5 linked regions of the Homo sapiens genome follow. The protein of the gene in region 1 purifies or fractionates together with the protein of each later gene. This does not show direct contact. Each region holds a gene or a part of one and is shown in the gene's direction. Other genes may lie near its edges. The genes, in order: ZFHX3, TGFBRAP1, ACBD3, BEND3 and CCS.

Evidence for each region.
Region 2: the proteins of ZFHX3 (region 1) and TGFBRAP1 purify together in Homo sapiens (affinity purification with mass spectrometry; one large-scale study listed by BioGRID and IntAct). This does not show direct contact.
Region 3: the proteins of ZFHX3 (region 1) and ACBD3 purify together in Homo sapiens (affinity purification with mass spectrometry; one large-scale study listed by BioGRID and IntAct). This does not show direct contact.
Region 4: the proteins of ZFHX3 (region 1) and BEND3 purify together in Homo sapiens (affinity purification with mass spectrometry; one large-scale study listed by BioGRID and IntAct). This does not show direct contact.
Region 5: the proteins of ZFHX3 (region 1) and CCS purify together in Homo sapiens (affinity purification with mass spectrometry; one large-scale study listed by BioGRID and IntAct). This does not show direct contact.

The regions. Positions count from the first base shown.
Region 1 is NC_000016.10:72,796,610-72,800,129, reverse strand, and holds part of ZFHX3 (zinc finger homeobox protein 3), read left to right. Parts: coding exon 1-103; intron 104-1,415; coding exon 1,416-3,520.
Region 2 is NC_000002.12:105,305,721-105,309,240, reverse strand, and holds part of TGFBRAP1 (transforming growth factor-beta receptor-associated protein 1), read left to right. Parts: intron 1-922; 5' UTR 923-939; coding exon 940-1,627; intron 1,628-3,520. UniProt on the Homo sapiens protein: Plays a role in the TGF-beta/activin signaling pathway. It associates with inactive heteromeric TGF-beta and activin receptor complexes, mainly through the type II receptor, and is released upon activation of signaling.
Region 3 is NC_000001.11:226,159,225-226,162,744, reverse strand, and holds part of ACBD3 (Golgi resident protein GCP60), read left to right. Parts: intron 1-1,055; coding exon 1,056-1,214; intron 1,215-3,386; coding exon 3,387-3,520. UniProt on the Homo sapiens protein: Involved in the maintenance of Golgi structure by interacting with giantin, affecting protein transport between the endoplasmic reticulum and Golgi. Involved in hormone-induced steroid biosynthesis in testicular Leydig cells.
Region 4 is NC_000006.12:107,064,676-107,067,612, reverse strand, and holds the end of BEND3 (BEN domain-containing protein 3), read left to right. Parts: 3' UTR 1-2,431; downstream 2,432-2,937. UniProt on the Homo sapiens protein: Transcriptional repressor which associates with the NoRC (nucleolar remodeling complex) complex and plays a key role in repressing rDNA transcription.
Region 5 is NC_000011.10:66,596,179-66,599,698, forward strand, and holds part of CCS (copper chaperone for superoxide dismutase), read left to right. Parts: intron 1-2,937; coding exon 2,938-3,075; intron 3,076-3,280; coding exon 3,281-3,458; intron 3,459-3,520. UniProt on the Homo sapiens protein: Delivers copper to copper zinc superoxide dismutase (SOD1).

The DNA.
Region 1 (3,520 bases):
GTGACCACCCCTGAGATGGTGATGCCAAGCAGCATGTTCCTCCCAGCAGCTGTTCCAGATCGAGATGGGAATTCCAATTTGGAAGAGGCAGGAAAGCAGCCTGGTCAGTATCATTATTCTTGACCCCAAGAAATTGAAACAAGATGGAATGCCAAAATGTTCATGGAGAAAGGTTTTCAGGAATTCTTTACAATACTCTTAAGGTGAATGTAACTGATCAGGAGATGAGGGGCACTGTCATCAGCTACTTTATACTCTGCTTCTTGGCATGTATTTGTATATTACTCACATGGTTTAAAGTGAGAGAAAATTAGTATGAGAACCAGTGGAATTCTGGCACAGACACACACATCTTCTTAAACTATACAATTAGGGAGTGAATAACCAGAGACTCAGTCAGTAGGCCCTACCATTCTAAGCCATTAAACACTGTATTTCTGAGGACTTAATTAGTAGGGACTTGTGGGTTGATTTTTAGGTACACTGGATTAGTTGTCTTTCGTTCTGAGTTTTTTGGGATTGGCTTAGGATGAAGCACAGAGATGCTGATGGAAAGAACATTGTTGTAGACAGTAGTTGGTGCCACATAGTGTTTCCTGGCTAGATGAATGGTTAGACCTCTGTGAGGCTGTCCTACATCGTTCACCTCTAAGGTGGGAAGAGTTCTAAGTTGGGAAGAGTTTGGCCACACTACTGTCCTGCCTTCTCTCTTTCTTGTGAGTTTTCCATATTAGACAATGGACAAATGACCTGTTAAAGGGTCTCGGTATTTATGAGTGTGATGATCTCATTGTAGGGAAAAAAATGTATTTTAAATAATTGAACACTTGAATGTTAATTGCTTATTGAATAGAGATGGCAATCAGAAGTCACATTATAACAAGAAATTAAATGCCTAAAAATATGTATCCCCAAATTTCTTATATTACGATGTTCAGCAGTTCTTGTAAATTCCTCACAACTTAGGACAGCATTAATTCACATATTCTACACTTCAGATCTACTGTGCTAAATGCTTATTACATAAAAGATGAACATAAAAGGGAAATCCAGTCTAAGATCAGTAACCTTCAAACCAGCTCTTGAGAAATTGAGGATTCTGAGTCAAGCAATTAAATGCTATTTAAAAGACTGTTAGATCTGTGATATGACATGGGTCTATTATGCATTGAAACTTTTTGTATTTCCTTTTATCCATCTCTGTTCATGTGCACCCTGTTTATAATATGTGCTCTATTGGAGGAACAAAAGAAAGCAGGAGGCGCTCCGCAGAGATTCTGTCATTCAGGTTGGGCACTTCCCTCATCATCAGATTCTGTGTTCATGAGGCCTGACTAGGTAGACCGCTCTGGGTGCCATCCTTGAAACAAAGCCTTCTTTATCTTTGGGTTTGATTTTTTTTTTTTTTTTAACAGAAACCTCAGAGGATCTGGGAAAGAACATCTTGCCATCCGCAAGCACAGAGCAAAGCGGAGATTTGAAACCATCCCCTGCTGACCCAGGCTCTGTGAGAGAAGACTCAGGCTTCATCTGCTGGAAGAAGGGGTGCAACCAGGTTTTCAAAACTTCTGCTGCCCTTCAGACGCATTTTAATGAAGTGCATGCCAAGAGGCCTCAGCTGCCGGTGTCAGATCGCCATGTGTACAAGTACCGCTGTAATCAGTGTAGCCTGGCCTTCAAGACCATTGAAAAGTTGCAGCTCCATTCTCAGTACCATGTGATCAGAGCTGCCACCATGTGCTGTCTTTGTCAGCGCAGTTTCCGAACTTTCCAGGCTCTGAAGAAGCACCTTGAGACAAGCCACCTGGAGCTGAGTGAGGCTGACATCCAACAGCTTTATGGTGGCCTGCTGGCCAATGGGGACCTCCTGGCAATGGGAGACCCCACTCTGGCAGAGGACCATACCATAATTGTTGAGGAAGACAAGGAGGAAGAGAGTGACTTGGAAGATAAACAGAGCCCAACGGGCAGTGACTCTGGGTCAGTACAAGAAGACTCGGGCTCAGAGCCAAAGAGAGCTCTGCCTTTCAGAAAAGGTCCCAATTTTACTATGGAAAAGTTCCTAGACCCTTCTCGCCCTTACAAGTGTACCGTCTGCAAGGAATCTTTCACTCAAAAGAATATCCTGCTAGTACACTACAATTCTGTCTCCCACCTGCATAAGTTAAAGAGAGCCCTTCAAGAATCAGCAACCGGTCAGCCAGAACCCACCAGCAGCCCAGACAACAAACCTTTTAAGTGTAACACTTGTAATGTGGCCTACAGCCAGAGTTCCACTCTGGAGATCCATATGAGGTCTGTGTTACATCAAACCAAGGCCCGGGCAGCCAAGCTGGAGGCTGCAAGTGGCAGCAGCAATGGGACTGGGAACAGCAGCAGTATTTCCTTGAGCTCCTCCACGCCAAGTCCTGTGAGCACCAGTGGCAGTAACACCTTTACCACCTCCAATCCAAGCAGTGCTGGCATTGCTCCAAGCTCTAACTTACTAAGCCAAGTGCCCACTGAGAGTGTAGGGATGCCACCCCTGGGGAATCCTATTGGTGCCAACATTGCTTCCCCTTCAGAGCCCAAAGAGGCCAATCGGAAGAAACTGGCAGATATGATTGCATCCAGGCAGCAGCAACAACAGCAGCAGCAACAGCAACAACAACAACAACAACAACAACAACAAGCACAAACGCTGGCCCAGGCCCAGGCTCAAGTTCAAGCTCACCTGCAGCAGGAGCTGCAGCAACAGGCTGCCCTGATCCAGTCTCAGCTGTTTAACCCCACCCTCCTTCCTCACTTCCCCATGACAACTGAGACCCTGCTGCAACTACAGCAGCAGCAGCACCTCCTCTTCCCTTTCTACATCCCCAGTGCTGAGTTCCAGCTTAACCCCGAGGTGAGCTTGCCAGTGACCAGTGGGGCACTGACACTGACTGGGACAGGCCCAGGCCTGCTGGAAGATCTGAAGGCTCAGGTTCAGGTCCCACAGCAGAGCCATCAGCAGATCTTGCCGCAGCAGCAGCAGAACCAACTCTCTATAGCCCAGAGTCACTCTGCCCTCCTTCAGCCAAGCCAGCACCCCGAAAAGAAGAACAAATTGGTCATCAAAGAAAAGGAAAAAGAAAGCCAGAGAGAGAGGGACAGCGCCGAGGGGGGAGAGGGCAACACCGGTCCGAAGGAAACACTGCCAGATGCCTTGAAGGCCAAAGAGAAGAAAGAGTTGGCACCAGGGGGTGGTTCTGAGCCTTCCATGCTCCCTCCACGCATTGCTTCAGATGCCAGAGGGAACGCCACCAAGGCCCTGCTGGAGAACTTTGGCTTTGAGTTGGTCATCCAGTATAATGAGAACAAGCAGAAGGTGCAGAAAAAGAATGGGAAGACTGACCAGGGAGAGAACCTGGAAAAGCTCGAGTGTGACTCCTGCGGCAAGTTGTTTTCCAACATCTTGATTTTAAAGAGTCATCAAGAGCACGTTCATCAGAATTACTTTCCTTTCAAACAGCTCGAGAGGTTTGCCAAACAGTACAGAGAC
Region 2 (3,520 bases), on another chromosome or scaffold:
GGACTGTGCCTTTGAGTTTGCTTCTGGCTGCCTGAGAAGTCAGAAAGGCCACCTTGCCTGATCTTCTCCCTGTGACTTTGTGGAGTGTGAAGCCACAGTTCTCTGCAGAAGATGAAGTAGGAGGCGACGGGCTAGTGTGTGGGAAAGTCTCACTTCCAATGGGAGCCAGGGACCGGTCGGTCCACACATCCACTAAATAGCTCCACTCACCATCTGAAAGCCTTTCGAGATCCGAGGCACACCTTTACTCTCCACATGAATACATTTACTCCGGAGCTGAGGCTGATGCGCCTGCCTTATTGGGAAGAACACAAAGGAATCCAAGGCCTGGCGTCTGCCTCGGTGTTCCTGGCAGGATCCTGTGACTGTGGTTGTGTTCATTGACTAAAGTGCATATTCAAGTAGCTGTAGAAACTCAGGGAAGATCAGTGAGGATCATTTCTGCCTTTTTCAGAAATCCTTTTTGTTTTTTTTTTTAAATGGGGTCTCATTATATTGCCCAGGCTGGCCTCCAGCTCCTGGGGTCAAGCCATCCTCCTGCCTCACAGAAATCCTTTTGTTATGTTGCCCGTGGGTGAATGCATGCATTTGTCTTCTGCCTTCAAGCGTGTCTCCCAGGAGCAATGTGAGGAGGCTCCAGGTGACTCTGTGTGGGGACTGAGCAGGATGGCACGTGATCACAAGCACATACATATGTGTATATGGGTGTGTGTGTGTGTATGTGTCTGTGGTTTTCTTCTTGGGTCTTCTGCTGTCTGATGGGGGAGGTCTGTGGGGAAATGGTTTCTTTCCATTTTTTGATAGCGTGGAATGACTTTCTTTAATGAAAATGACAACTAGGGAATCCACGTATCATTATTGCAGCCTCTGTTTCTGCTTCTTCCTTGTTCCTCTAAAATTAGTTTTCCTCTTTCTCTTCCAGCAGATCAGCCAGTAGACATGATGAGCATCAAAGCCTTTACGCTTGTCTCTGCTGTGGAGCGGGAGCTGCTGATGGGCGACAAGGAGCGCGTCAACATAGAGTGCGTGGAGTGCTGCGGCAGGGACCTCTACGTGGGCACCAACGACTGCTTCGTCTACCACTTCCTGTTGGAGGAGAGGCCAGTGCCTGCTGGGCCAGCCACGTTCACTGCCACCAAACAGCTGCAGAGACACTTGGGCTTCAAGAAGCCCGTGAACGAGCTGCGTGCGGCCTCAGCACTCAACAGGCTGCTGGTGCTGTGTGACAACTCCATCAGCCTGGTCAACATGCTGAACCTCGAGCCAGTGCCTTCGGGGGCCCGCATCAAGGGGGCAGCCACGTTTGCACTGAACGAGAACCCTGTGAGTGGGGACCCCTTCTGTGTAGAAGTTTGCATCATCTCTGTCAAACGCAGAACCATCCAGATGTTTCTGGTGTACGAGGACCGGGTGCAGATCGTCAAGGAGGTGTCGACTGCCGAGCAGCCCCTCGCTGTGGCTGTGGACGGCCACTTCCTGTGTCTGGCTCTGACCACTCAGTACATCATCCACAATTACAGCACAGGCGTCTCCCAGGACCTGTTTCCCTACTGCAGTGAGGAGAGGCCGCCGATCGTCAAGAGGATAGGGAGACAGGAGTTCCTGCTGGCGGGCCCCGGAGGGCTGGGTGAGGAGGATGCATTTGTGCGCCTGATCTTTTTGGGTGGCCTCGGTGACTGCGTGTTGAAACTGGAGAGTGAGATTGGCGCTGTGCAGAATAAATCCTCAGTGACATTGGGCGTGTGTGGCAAGACAGAGGTAGCAGTGCTTGACCAGTGCTTGATGAAATCCAGTTCGATTGTTCTGTGAACGTGGGGTTGGAGTCATAAAACCAGTTTCTTTCACATTAAAGTGGAGCTTGAAGACAGCTCTGGTGGTGTTACCGGGAAGTGGGGATATTCTCAGCCCTTAGTCATCTTGGGAGAAAGATTTTGGCCAAGAGACAATTCAGAGATAGCAGAGAGCTTTCTGAAGGGAAATAGAGAACAGAGAATTTATATGGAGAGAGACAGTACGTTCTGAAAGATGAGGCAGAGTGGGATGCTGAGAGAGTGAGCCAGCAGCCCTGAGAGTTCTGCATCGGGTTTTTATGATGCTGGAGTTTTTCTTGAAGTTCCCACCTCTGTCTTAAAGTTTCTGCCTTTTTCCTTTGTCTAGTTTTCCCGCTTCTGCCTTAAGTCCCCACCTTTTCCTCCCACCTAATTTCTACTCTAAGCTTGTGGGACCCTCTCTTACTAGTAGTTGGTGCACATGTACAGCCGGTGTTGGATGTGAATCCCACCTAATGGCTGCATTGCTCATTACCTCCACCCCAGGAAGGTTGTACAGCGGTTAGGTCCATACTTACTGCACCTGAATGTCTCTTTGGAATTTCTCCTTTACCCTCTTTCCCTCCTCTCTGCTCATATCTAGCATGCATGTTTTGTTTGTTTGTTTTGTTTTGAGACAGAGTCTCGCTTTATTGCCCAGGCTGGAGTGCAGTGGCACAGTATCGGCTCACTGCAACCTCTACCTCCCAGGTTCAAGCGATTCTCCCTGCCTCAACCTTCCAAATAGCTGAGATTTCAGGCATGCACCACCATGCCTGGCTAATTTTTGTATTTTTGGTAGAGATGGGGTTTCACCATGTTGGCCAGGTTGGTCTTGAACTCCTGACCTCAAGGGATCCACCCACCTCGGCCTCCCAAAGTGCTGGGATTACAAGCATCAGCCACCATGCCTGGCCAGCATGCATCTTTTTGATGGTCTCTGGGATGTGGGATTTTCCAGACCTCCCTTTTCTCAGGGGCTCTTCCCTCCCATTCATGTCTAGCTAGCTATCTACCCACTCTTAACAGTGGGAAAATTCTTTTAAGTAAATAACTACAAAAATAACTCTGGGCTGGGCGCAGTGGCTCACGCCTATAATCCCAGCACTTTGGGAGGCCAAAGCAGGTGGATCACCTGTGGTGGGGAGTTCGAGACCATCCTGACCAACATGGAGAAACCCTGTCTCTACTAAAAATACAAAATTAGCCGGGCATGGTGGTGCATGCCTGTAATCCCAGCTACTCAGGAAGCTGAGGCAGGAGAATTGCTTGAACCCAGGAGGCAGCAGTTGCGGTGAGCTGAGATCACGCCATTGCACTCCAGCCTGGGCAGCAAGAGGGAAACTGTCTCAAAAAAAAAAAAACAAAAAACAAAAAACAAAAAACCAGAAAACTCCGTAAGGGTTCCTGGTAAGATTTTCCCACAAGAGTGGGTTGTCATTTGATTGTTTTTGCTCCTCATTCTAAAAAGTTGTTGAGGCTGGGCTAGGTGGCTCACGCCTGTAATCCCAGCACTTTGGGATGCCGAAGCAGGCAGATCACCTGAGGTCAGTAGTTCGAGACCAGCCTGGCCAAAAGGTGAAACCCTATCTCTACTAAAAATACAAAAATTAGCCTGGTGTGGTGGTGGGCACCTGTAATCCCAGCTACTCAGGAGGCTGAGGCAGGAGAATCACTTGGGCGGAGGTTACAGTGAGCTGAGATCGTGCCAC
Region 3 (3,520 bases), on another chromosome or scaffold:
ATCACTTATAGGAGTTAGAGGGGAGAAAGGTGAGGTAGCCCAGACAATTCTCGTGGTAGGTTTATGAAATAGTGTCTTATCTGATACTCCTTAGAAATCTTCCCTTTCATCCTGTCTGCAGGCTCCCTGAACACCATACCACTCTCAGACCCGGAAGATGTCCATTCCTAGCACAATAGGATCTGTTCTTTTTGGAAGGGTCTTGTGGGGTGGGTGAAAGCTGGGCAAGGGCTGCCCTGAGAGGTTAACCGTTCTTTTTTAAATTAAAAGCTTTACAAAAAATTTTAATTTCAGAAATAATACACAAATATATGCAATATAAAATTTTCATTTATGGCAGTATATGAAACACAAACTGAAAAAAATCTTTTTTCCCACATTTCTTTTAATTCCACTCTCCTCTGCATAGATAATAACTGATAAATTTAGGGTATGTCCTTCCAGATCTTTTCCTTTGTATTCACCTTTTTTTTTTTCATTAAGCAAGTGTATTACATGTCTTTACATATTAGGCAATGTATTTCTATCCTTTGGCTCTGCGATATTTCAGGGTGGATTTTTTACTTCTGTACACGTTTGTCGAGTGCTTGTTCTTTCCAGCACTGTGCTAAGCCCTGAGGATGTCGTGGTGTGAGATAGGCAGTCTCTTCCCCTATGGAGCATCTAGTTTAATGGGTAATGCAGATCTATTGCTGAATGTATCACACAAATTTAATTATAATGACAGCAGGTATTATGAAGGAAAAGCTTTTAGTGCTGTGAGCATATATTAGAGGGGATCCTTCAGGGTATAGGAATATCATAATGACTTAAGTAGTTTCTTATGATGGACACATTTCTGTTGCTGTGCAACAATAATTATTCTTGATGTGATTTGTATATTGTGCGATTGATTCCCTATAAGTTTCTGCTAGTAAAGTGTATGTATTTTAAATTTTGATGTATATATCCACATTGTTCTCTAAAAAGGTCATGTCAGTTTTCCCTGGGAGCTAAAGTTTTATTTTTAAACAGGATTCAACGTATAGGGTTCATTCTCTATCTTTGCCTTGTAGGAAGGAGGAAGAGGAGCGAAGGCGGCGTGAAGAGGAAGAAAGAGAACGTCTGCAAAAGGAGGAAGAGAAACGTAGGAGAGAAGAAGAGGAAAGGCTTCGACGGGAGGAAGAGGAAAGGAGACGGATAGAAGAAGAAAGGCTTCGGTTGGAGCAGCAAAAGTAAGTTTATTATGTGGCTTATGTTTTAAAATGAGAAATGGAAAAAAAATAGAATAAAAATAAGAAATGAGCGGGCCAGGTGTGGTGGTTCACGCCTGTAATCCCAGCACTTTGGGAGGCGGAGGCGGGCAGATCACCTGAGGTTGGGAGATCACCTGAGGTTGGGAGATGGAGACTATCCTGGCTAACACAGTGAAACCCTGTTTCTATTAAAAATACAAAAAATTAGCTGGGCGCAGTGGCATATGCCTGTAATCCCACCTACTCAGGAGGCTGAGGCAGGAGAATCTCTTGAACCCAGGAGGTGGAGGTTGCAGTGAGCCGAGATCGCGCCATTGCACTCCAGCCTGGGTAATGAGTGAAACTCCGTCTCAAAAAAAAAAAGGAATGTATTAGAAGGTTTGGGGGTTCACTTGCAGAACCCAGAGATTGGAAGCAGGAGCTGAGGTTGCTTGGTTGCGCTCTCTGTTTCTTGTCTCTGCTTCTCTCAGCTTATGTCTCTGCTTCATCCTTGCTCTCTGCAAATTGTCAACTGTCTGCTTTGGCATATGCAAGGCTGTCCGAGGATTTATTTGGTCTATGTTTCCATGCATCTGACAGAGACTGGCTGGAATCTGTGAGACCCAGTTGCAGTTTCCCAGGACAGAGAATCTTGTTGGTCCAGTCTATGTCAGATATCCATTTATAGTCCTTAGTACAAGATTTGGAGGCTTCAACTATTGCTTACTCAGTAAGGGCTTTGAGACTCAGAGACTGACAGGTTCTTCAAGAGGGAGCTGTGGGTACAAGGAGGCAGTGATTAACACCCATAAAACACTGGGAAGTAAGTCTGAGTTTGTAGGGGTGGCATGGCTTGTAGGTTAAACCAGAGAACATGAGAGTCCATTGATTTCTTCTCATTATTTCTGGGTAGTTCCTCAGAAAAAGGTTTAGTGCTAGCCTCAAACTAATCCAGGCCCTCATTCAACTTTGGAGAAAGACTATGAATGCAGCTCTTTTTTGGGGGAGGTTGTCCTAGGTGGATCGAATGTTGTGCTGTATGTAGGAGTTTGTGAGGCTTTGCTTTGTTATCTATTAATAGATGGCTTTGAGGTCTCTGTTAAGTTGGTCACATAAGTAAGTTAAGAAGCATGTGGTTGCTGGCTGTGGTGGCTCATGCCTGTAATCCCAGCACTTTGGGAGGCCGAGGCGGGCGGATCACTTGATTGAGGTCAGGGGTTTGAAACGAGCCTGGCCAACATGGTGAAACCGTCTTTACTAAAAATATAAAGATTAGCCAGGCGTGGTAGCAGGTGCCTGTAATCCCAGCTACTTGGGAGGCTGAGGCAGGAGAATCGCTTGAACCTAGGAAGTGGAGGTTGCAGTGAGCTGAGATCACGCCACTGCACTCCAGCATGGGTGACAGAGTGAAACTCCGTCTCAAAAAAAAAAAAAAGAAGAAGCATGTGGTTTATCTATAAAAGAATATGAGTATCTCTAAACTAAGCATGCCAAGATATTTTCAGTATTTCCTCTATTAAGACAGGCTTTAAATTAAATGCTGTGGACCCTTAATTTTTCACTGGCTTTATTTATACTTACCAGGGCCACCTGTAACATCTTCCAGCTATTCTTCTGCCTCTTACTGTTTTTTATGTATTTAGGTACAGAAGCCATAGCCAACAGTTAAATACCTCATCTATGTCAGAGATGACAATCCATCATCTTAAAGCATCGTGGTAAATTAGTGTAGCTCTAGAGCCAAACTGCCTGGATTTGCATCAGGCTGTAGCATCTGCTAGCAGTATAGTCTTGGGCAAGTTACTGAACCCTCTGTCAGAGGGTTGTTGTGAGGACTAAATGGGTTAGTATGTGTGAGTACTTTCAACACTGCATGGCACATAGTAAGGGCACAATAAATGTTAATAATTATGATGGTGGTCATGATGATGATGATCATATGCTTATCTTCCATCCCGAATTTTCCTGGAAAATCCTAAGTAAAAAATTAGAGGCCAGGCTTATTTTCTTAAATCTTTCTTCTGGACCCAGAACACATACTAATTGGTGTACATTACTAGCTTAGTTGTTTTTAAGAGTTACAGACTGTAAAAGTAAGTAATAAGGACATTTTATTTTGTCATGAACAATCTCCTGTAGCCAGACTAGTATATATATTTTTAATGTTTTTAGGCAGCAGATAATGGCAGCTTTAAACTCCCAGACTGCCGTGCAGTTCCAGCAGTATGCAGCCCAACAGTATCCAGGGAACTACGAACAGCAGCAAATTCTCATCCGCCAGTTGCAGGAGCAACACTATCAGCAGT
Region 4 (2,937 bases), on another chromosome or scaffold:
GCATTGGAAGGACACAGGCCATTTTAGATGGGGTACACATGTCCCTTCCCAGGGTCCACTCAGAACTTTCCTCTTGGACTCTCTAGAAGGTCCTGCTGTCCTATACCTGGCCACCCCCTGCCTTGGGGGGCACATGTCTTCGTTCCCTCCCGACTGGGAATGTCAGGCTCCTGCAGGCCAGCTGCATGCTCTCCAGGAGCACCAACTGGGAAATCCCCTGACAGGTAAAGTCCTTTAAAATGATACTTTTACCTACCTAACTCTGGGGGCCAAATGCTTAAGAGGGAAAGGAAACAGTCGAATGCAAACAGTGTGTCATACCAGAGTCCTGGAAAATTTATTGAATCACACAGGGTAGTCATAGAACCCCTGTGGGATGGCTTAATATTTTGCTACTTTAAAATGCAGAGATAACAGAAACAATCTGGATTTTCTTCATTCAGCTGATAAGAACTTCAGTTCCAGTGGCTGTATGACATAATTTTGCCTGTACCCAGGAGCATTTTTTAAAATACAGGATTTTAAAAGCAATGTTAAGTTGCTGATCTAACTAGTAAATTTGCTCCTAAGTGTCATTTACAGATTATTTCTGTTGAAACTGCAAACAGATTTAGAAAGGCACAGGGACTGAATGACTCTCTGTCTTACACAGCTACTCATGCACACACGCACTGCTTACTAAAAGCTGAAGTGAGATGAAGGGGGCCTACACGAATAACAAGTTCAACTTCTTTGTGCCTGGAAAGGAGGGACTGGAGCAGCCAGGAGACTCACTTTCCCCCCTCGCTTGGGCCCTTCTCTATGCCTTAGTCTCTCCAGCACATGCACACAGCATGCACACACACGCACCCTACCCAAAGACAGCTGTGGCCCTCTCCCACCACCTCCCCCTTCCCACCGCTGGTTGTTGGGGGCTGGAGGCGGGAGGTCCCATGGAATTTGTTCTGGTTTCTAGGATGTAAACGAGGACTCCAAGCCATGAATTGCCCTGCTTTCTAGAGGGTGGAATGTTGACCCTGCAACTTTAGAAGCACAATCATTTATTAATAATTTTTTTGAAACTCCCATCTACCCCTGTTAGAGAAATCAACAGGTTCTAGGAATTAAATATGTCTCTTTGTAACCCAGAGCATGTTCAATTTTTGGAAACCGTATTTCAGTGATTTTCTTAATACCTTACATGTGTAGGGCATCTTCCCCCAGAATCTTACAGTCCCTTTCTGTGAAGAGAAGTGGACACACGTGGGAACTCTCACCATCTCTGGACTGTCGTCAGGAAACGCCTGCAGGTCCTTGCCCTGTCTGTATGGTGTCCTCACTTCTCCATCCATACAGGTGGCTCCAGTGGGCATTTTTTTATTTTAAATTTTTTACATGAAGCAATAGAAGTACAAAATACTTATTTTTTCAAAATTTAATGTGTTCCATGAAACCTGTTGGCAGTCGCTTTCCTTCCCCCACATCTAAATTCTTTGGTTTTTAGTTGTTTGTTTTTTGGATTTTTTTTTTTTTTTTTTTGGCCTTGTATCCCAAGGACTAAAAGATTAGCACAGACACGTTTTGATGTTGAATGAACTAGTAAGTCACAGTAGGTGGTAGTCTTCATTGATTTCTCTGTAAGTTTTTAAAGAATGTATGAAGATAGTCACGAATGTACTGAGTGTTCGCATCCCCCTTCAGTTCACCTTGGCTGTGTCTACAGGACAACAAATGTTTGACAGGGAATAAAGTCGTGTCTGGTGTCATTTGCGCTAGCGTGCCCCTCCCCTTTCGGTGTTGGCTCCAAACCTTCCTTTCCTTTTATGTTTGTGGGGAGTGGGGAACCACATCAGCAGCAATCATCAACCAACCAACCAATGGGATCTACTTAGTGGTGAATAGATTGGCTATTTAATTGGTAAAAGTTGCTGGTCTGACCACACCACAGCATGACCACTGGGTTCATTTAGAGATGGCCTCCGTTTCCAACGTTCCCCACAAATGTTTGCTTCTTTCCCAGTCAAGAGGGGATCTCGAGACTCCCGAGTGGAGGTCGTGAGCTTGCACCCCGCCTGGCTGTGTAGATCGACTGTATAGATACATGAAGTGGGGGTGAGGGCCAAGGGGCTATTACTGCTGTTGGGAAATACTTGCCTCTCGTAGATCCAGCCTTAATGTTTTTCTGACATCCTAGTAATAGCAGACCCTGCACAAAGTGGATATCAGACTTAATACTGTGAGGAGACAAAATAATGAGAATAGTTTTACCAAAGATAATGAAATCTCGCATCATGTCTGCATTTTACCATAGATTGGAGTGCATCCTTAGGAAACTGAATGTAACAAAAACCCAGGACATTTTTGGAAATTGTATGCTCTCTAGCAACTTTGTGTGAATTTTTATACAAACACTGTTTTATGAGTTATATAAAATGTTATAAAAATAGAAAAACATGGTCTCGTAACATGTTATTTTCTTAGAGCACTGGTCTCTCAGAATATGTCTTGGTCTATTTGTCTTTGTGCGTGGCCTCCTCACCCACCTCCCAGGGAAGAACGTGAATATTCCGGGGGATTTCAGCTTCTGGGGCTTCCATACTCTACGTGTCAGGGGTACAGCTCATAGGATTTCAGTTTGGCCACAGCTGAATGAATGAGAAATTGCCAGATAAATCCTCCAAACCATTTCTCCACAAACCACTTCCTGGCCATGTAGTGGGAGGCTTGTTTGACCTTTTTTAACCTTTCCTGGTCAGGTGCCAGGCCAGTCCTGCAAAGCCAGCAGAGTTTCATTTTCATTTAACCGCCTTTTTTTTTTTCACTTTGGATCAAATGGGTTTTAGTTTCCCGCCGCCCCAACCCTGCTAGAGTGCAGTGGTATAATCATGGCTCACTGCAGCCTCGACTTCCTGGGCTCAAGTGATCTTCCTGCCACAGACTCCTAAGTAGCTGGGACTA
Region 5 (3,520 bases), on another chromosome or scaffold:
ACCTCAGCCTCCTGAGTAGCTGGGATTACAGGTGTGCACCACCATGCCTGGCTAATTTTCATACTTTTACTAAAGATGGAGTTTTGCCATGTTGGCAAGGCTAGTATCGAACTCCTGGCCTCATGTGATCCACCTGCCTCAACCTCCCAAAGTGCTGGGATTATGGGTGTGCGCCACCACGCCTGGCCATCTGACAACTGACTTTTTTTTTTTTTTTTTGAGACGGAATCTCGCTCTGTTGCCCAGGCTGGAGTGCAGTGGCGCAATCTCGGCTCACTGCAAGCTCCGCCTCCCGGGTTCATGCCATTCTCCTGCTTCAGCCTCCTGAGTAGCTGGGACTACAGGCGCCCGCCACCATGCCCGGCTAACTTTTTAGTATTTTTAGTAGAGATGGGGTTTCACCGTGTTAGCCAGGATGGTCTCGATCTCCTGACCTTGTGATCCACCCACCTTGGCCTCCCAAAGTGCTGGGATTACAGGCATGAGCCACCGCGCCCGGCCGACAACTGACTTTTGAACTTGACCCTTGTGGACCTCACAGAGCTCCTGCCCTCACAGAGCTGGCGGCCTAGGAGTGAAACAGGATTGTAGTCAGTGCAATGTGAATTACAGGAGGGGGAGTGTGAGCTGCTACAGGACCACAAGGGGTGTGGTCCTAACCCAGCTTGGAGCCTAAGGGCTGCTTCCTAGGGTGAGTACAATATCTGGGTTAAGTGCTGGGGCTCTGGAGCTAGGCTGCATGGTCAGAGGTCCAGTTGCACAACTTACTACAGTGCGACTTTGAGCAAGTTTCTTCATCTTTCTGTGCCTCAGTTTTCTCATCTGTAAAATGGGGATCATTGTACCTAACTTAGAGGCTTAGTAGGAGTACCAAATATGTTAAGACAGGTAAAACACAGGATTCGCTCACCGTCCATGCCCAGTAAGTGTTAGCTCTACTAATGATGGCAATAGTCCCTGCCTTTTATGTGTGTAATAGCTTTATTAAGATATAATTCGGCTGGGCGCAGTGGCTCACACCTGTAATTCCAGCACTTTGGGAGGCTGAGGCAGGCAGATCATGAGGTGAGGAGATCGAGACCATTCTGGCTAACACGGTGAAACCCTGTCTCTACTAAAAACACAAAAAATCAGCTGGGCGTGATGGCGGGCACCTGTTGTCCCAGCTACTCGGGAGGCTGAGGCAGGAGAATGGCTAGAACCCAGGAGGTGGAGCTTGCAGTGAGCCGAGATTGTGCCACTGCACTCCAGCCTGGGTGACAGAGCGAGACTCCATTTCAAAAAGAAAAAAAGGCCAGGTGTGGTGGCTCATGCCTGTATTCCCAGCACTTTGGGAGGCCAAGGCGGGCAGATCACGAGGTCAGGAGATTGAGACCATCCTGGCTAACACGGTGAAACCCCGTCTTTACTAAAAATACAAAAAATTAGCCGGGCTTGGTGGCGGGCGCCTGTAGTCCCTGCTACTCGGGAGGCTGAGGCAGGAGAATGGCGTGAACCCAGGAGGTGAAGCTTGCAGTGAGCCCAGATGGCGCCACTGCACTCCAGCCTGGGCGACAGAGTGAGACTCTGTCTCAAAAAAAAAAAAAAGATATAATTCATAGGCTGGGCAGCTAGGCACAGTGGCTCACGCCTGTAATTCCAGCACTTTGGGAGGCTTGCTTGAACCCAGGAGGCAGAGGTTGCAGTGAGCCAAGATTATGCCACTGCTCTCCAGCCTAGGTGACAAAGCGAGACTCCATCTTGAAAATAAAAAAAGATATAATTCATGTACTATAAAAATCACCCATTTAGGCCAGGCGCAGTGGCTCACGCCTGTAGTCCCAACAGTTTGGGAGGCTGAGGTTGCAGTGAGCCGAGATTGTGCCATTACACTCCAGCCTGGGTGACACAGCGAGACTCTGTCTCAAAAAAAAAAAAAGAAAAAAAATTCACCCATTTAAAGGATACAGTTCATCTGTTTGTAGTATTTTCAGAGTTGTACAACCATCTCTCCACTGTCAGTTTTACATTTTTATCACTTCATAAAGAAATCCTAGGCCACAGCCAGGCGTGATGGCTCATGCCTGTAATCTCAGTACTTTGGGAGACTGAGGCAGGCAGATGACCTGAGGTCAGGAGTTCGAGAGCAGCCTGGCCAACATGGTGAAACCCCATGTCTACTAAAAGAAAAAAATACAAAAAAATTAGCTGGGCATGGTGGTGGTGTGTGCCTGTAGTCCCTGCTACTCGGGAGGCTAAGGCAGGAGAATCGCTTGAACCCGGGAGATGGAGGTTTCAGTGAGCTGAGATCGTGCCACTGCACTCCAGCCTGAGCAACAGAGAGAGACTCTGTTTCAAAAAAAAAAAAATATTTTTTAAGCTATCTCCTACAGGAAGAATATTTTCTGTTTGTGGATTTGCCTATTCTAGATATCTAATATACATGGCATTATATATGTGGCTTTGTGACTGGCTTTCTTGTAGCATAATGTTTCAAGGTCCGTCCATGTTGTAGCATGTATCAGCACTTCGTTCCTGAATAGTATTTCATTGTATGGATACCACATTTTATCTGTTCATTAGTTGATGGGCATTTGGGTTATTTTTATCTTTTGGCTATTGTGAATAATGCCACTATGGATAGCCCACTTAAAAAAAAAACAAAACACTGCTTTAAAAAGAATGATGTATGTTTCCAAAGTTATAAATAATGCCTGGCGTGTATTAGAACTCACAGAAATCCTGGGGGCAAGGTGGCATTATCCCCATTTATATGAAAAGAGACAGACTCAGAAGTGAAGAGGCTTACTCAGGGTTACACAGTTACGAAGTAGCTTGCCTCTGACCATGGGAAGTTTGGTGGAAATGGGGATGGAGAATTGCTGTCTGTTTTTCTGTTCCCTGCTGCCAGCACTGGGTGCCAGCCTCTGTTGCCCTCTTCCCTCTCTTTCTTGCCAGGTGTCCAGGATGTGGAGGTGCACTTGGAGGACCAGATGGTCTTGGTACACACCACTCTACCCAGCCAGGAGGTGCAGGCTCTCCTGGAAGGCACGGGGCGGCAGGCGGTACTCAAGGGCATGGGCAGCGGCCAGTTGCGTGAGTGACCACTGTGGCCTTGGCCCCTCTCGGAGGGAGGTGGCTCAGAGCTGGTACAAATCTAATCATAGGATTCTCAGGCTCTGGGTTGGAGTGGCTTTGAGGAAGGTGTGAAAATTATGTGAGACTCCCTGCCCTTCCCGAGCTGCTGAAGAGGTGTGCTGGGTGAGGTGGCAAGCCAGCCCAAGTGTCTAATACCTTGCAGAGAATCTGGGGGCAGCAGTGGCCATCCTGGGGGGGCCTGGCACCGTGCAGGGGGTGGTGCGCTTCCTACAGCTGACCCCTGAGCGCTGCCTCATCGAGGGAACTATTGACGGCCTGGAGCCTGGGCTGCATGGACTCCACGTCCATCAGTACGGGGACCTTACAAACAACTGCAACAGGTGAGTTGTCTGAAGTCTCCCCAGTAGCATTCTCAGCTACACATTTTCACACTGGGCCCTCA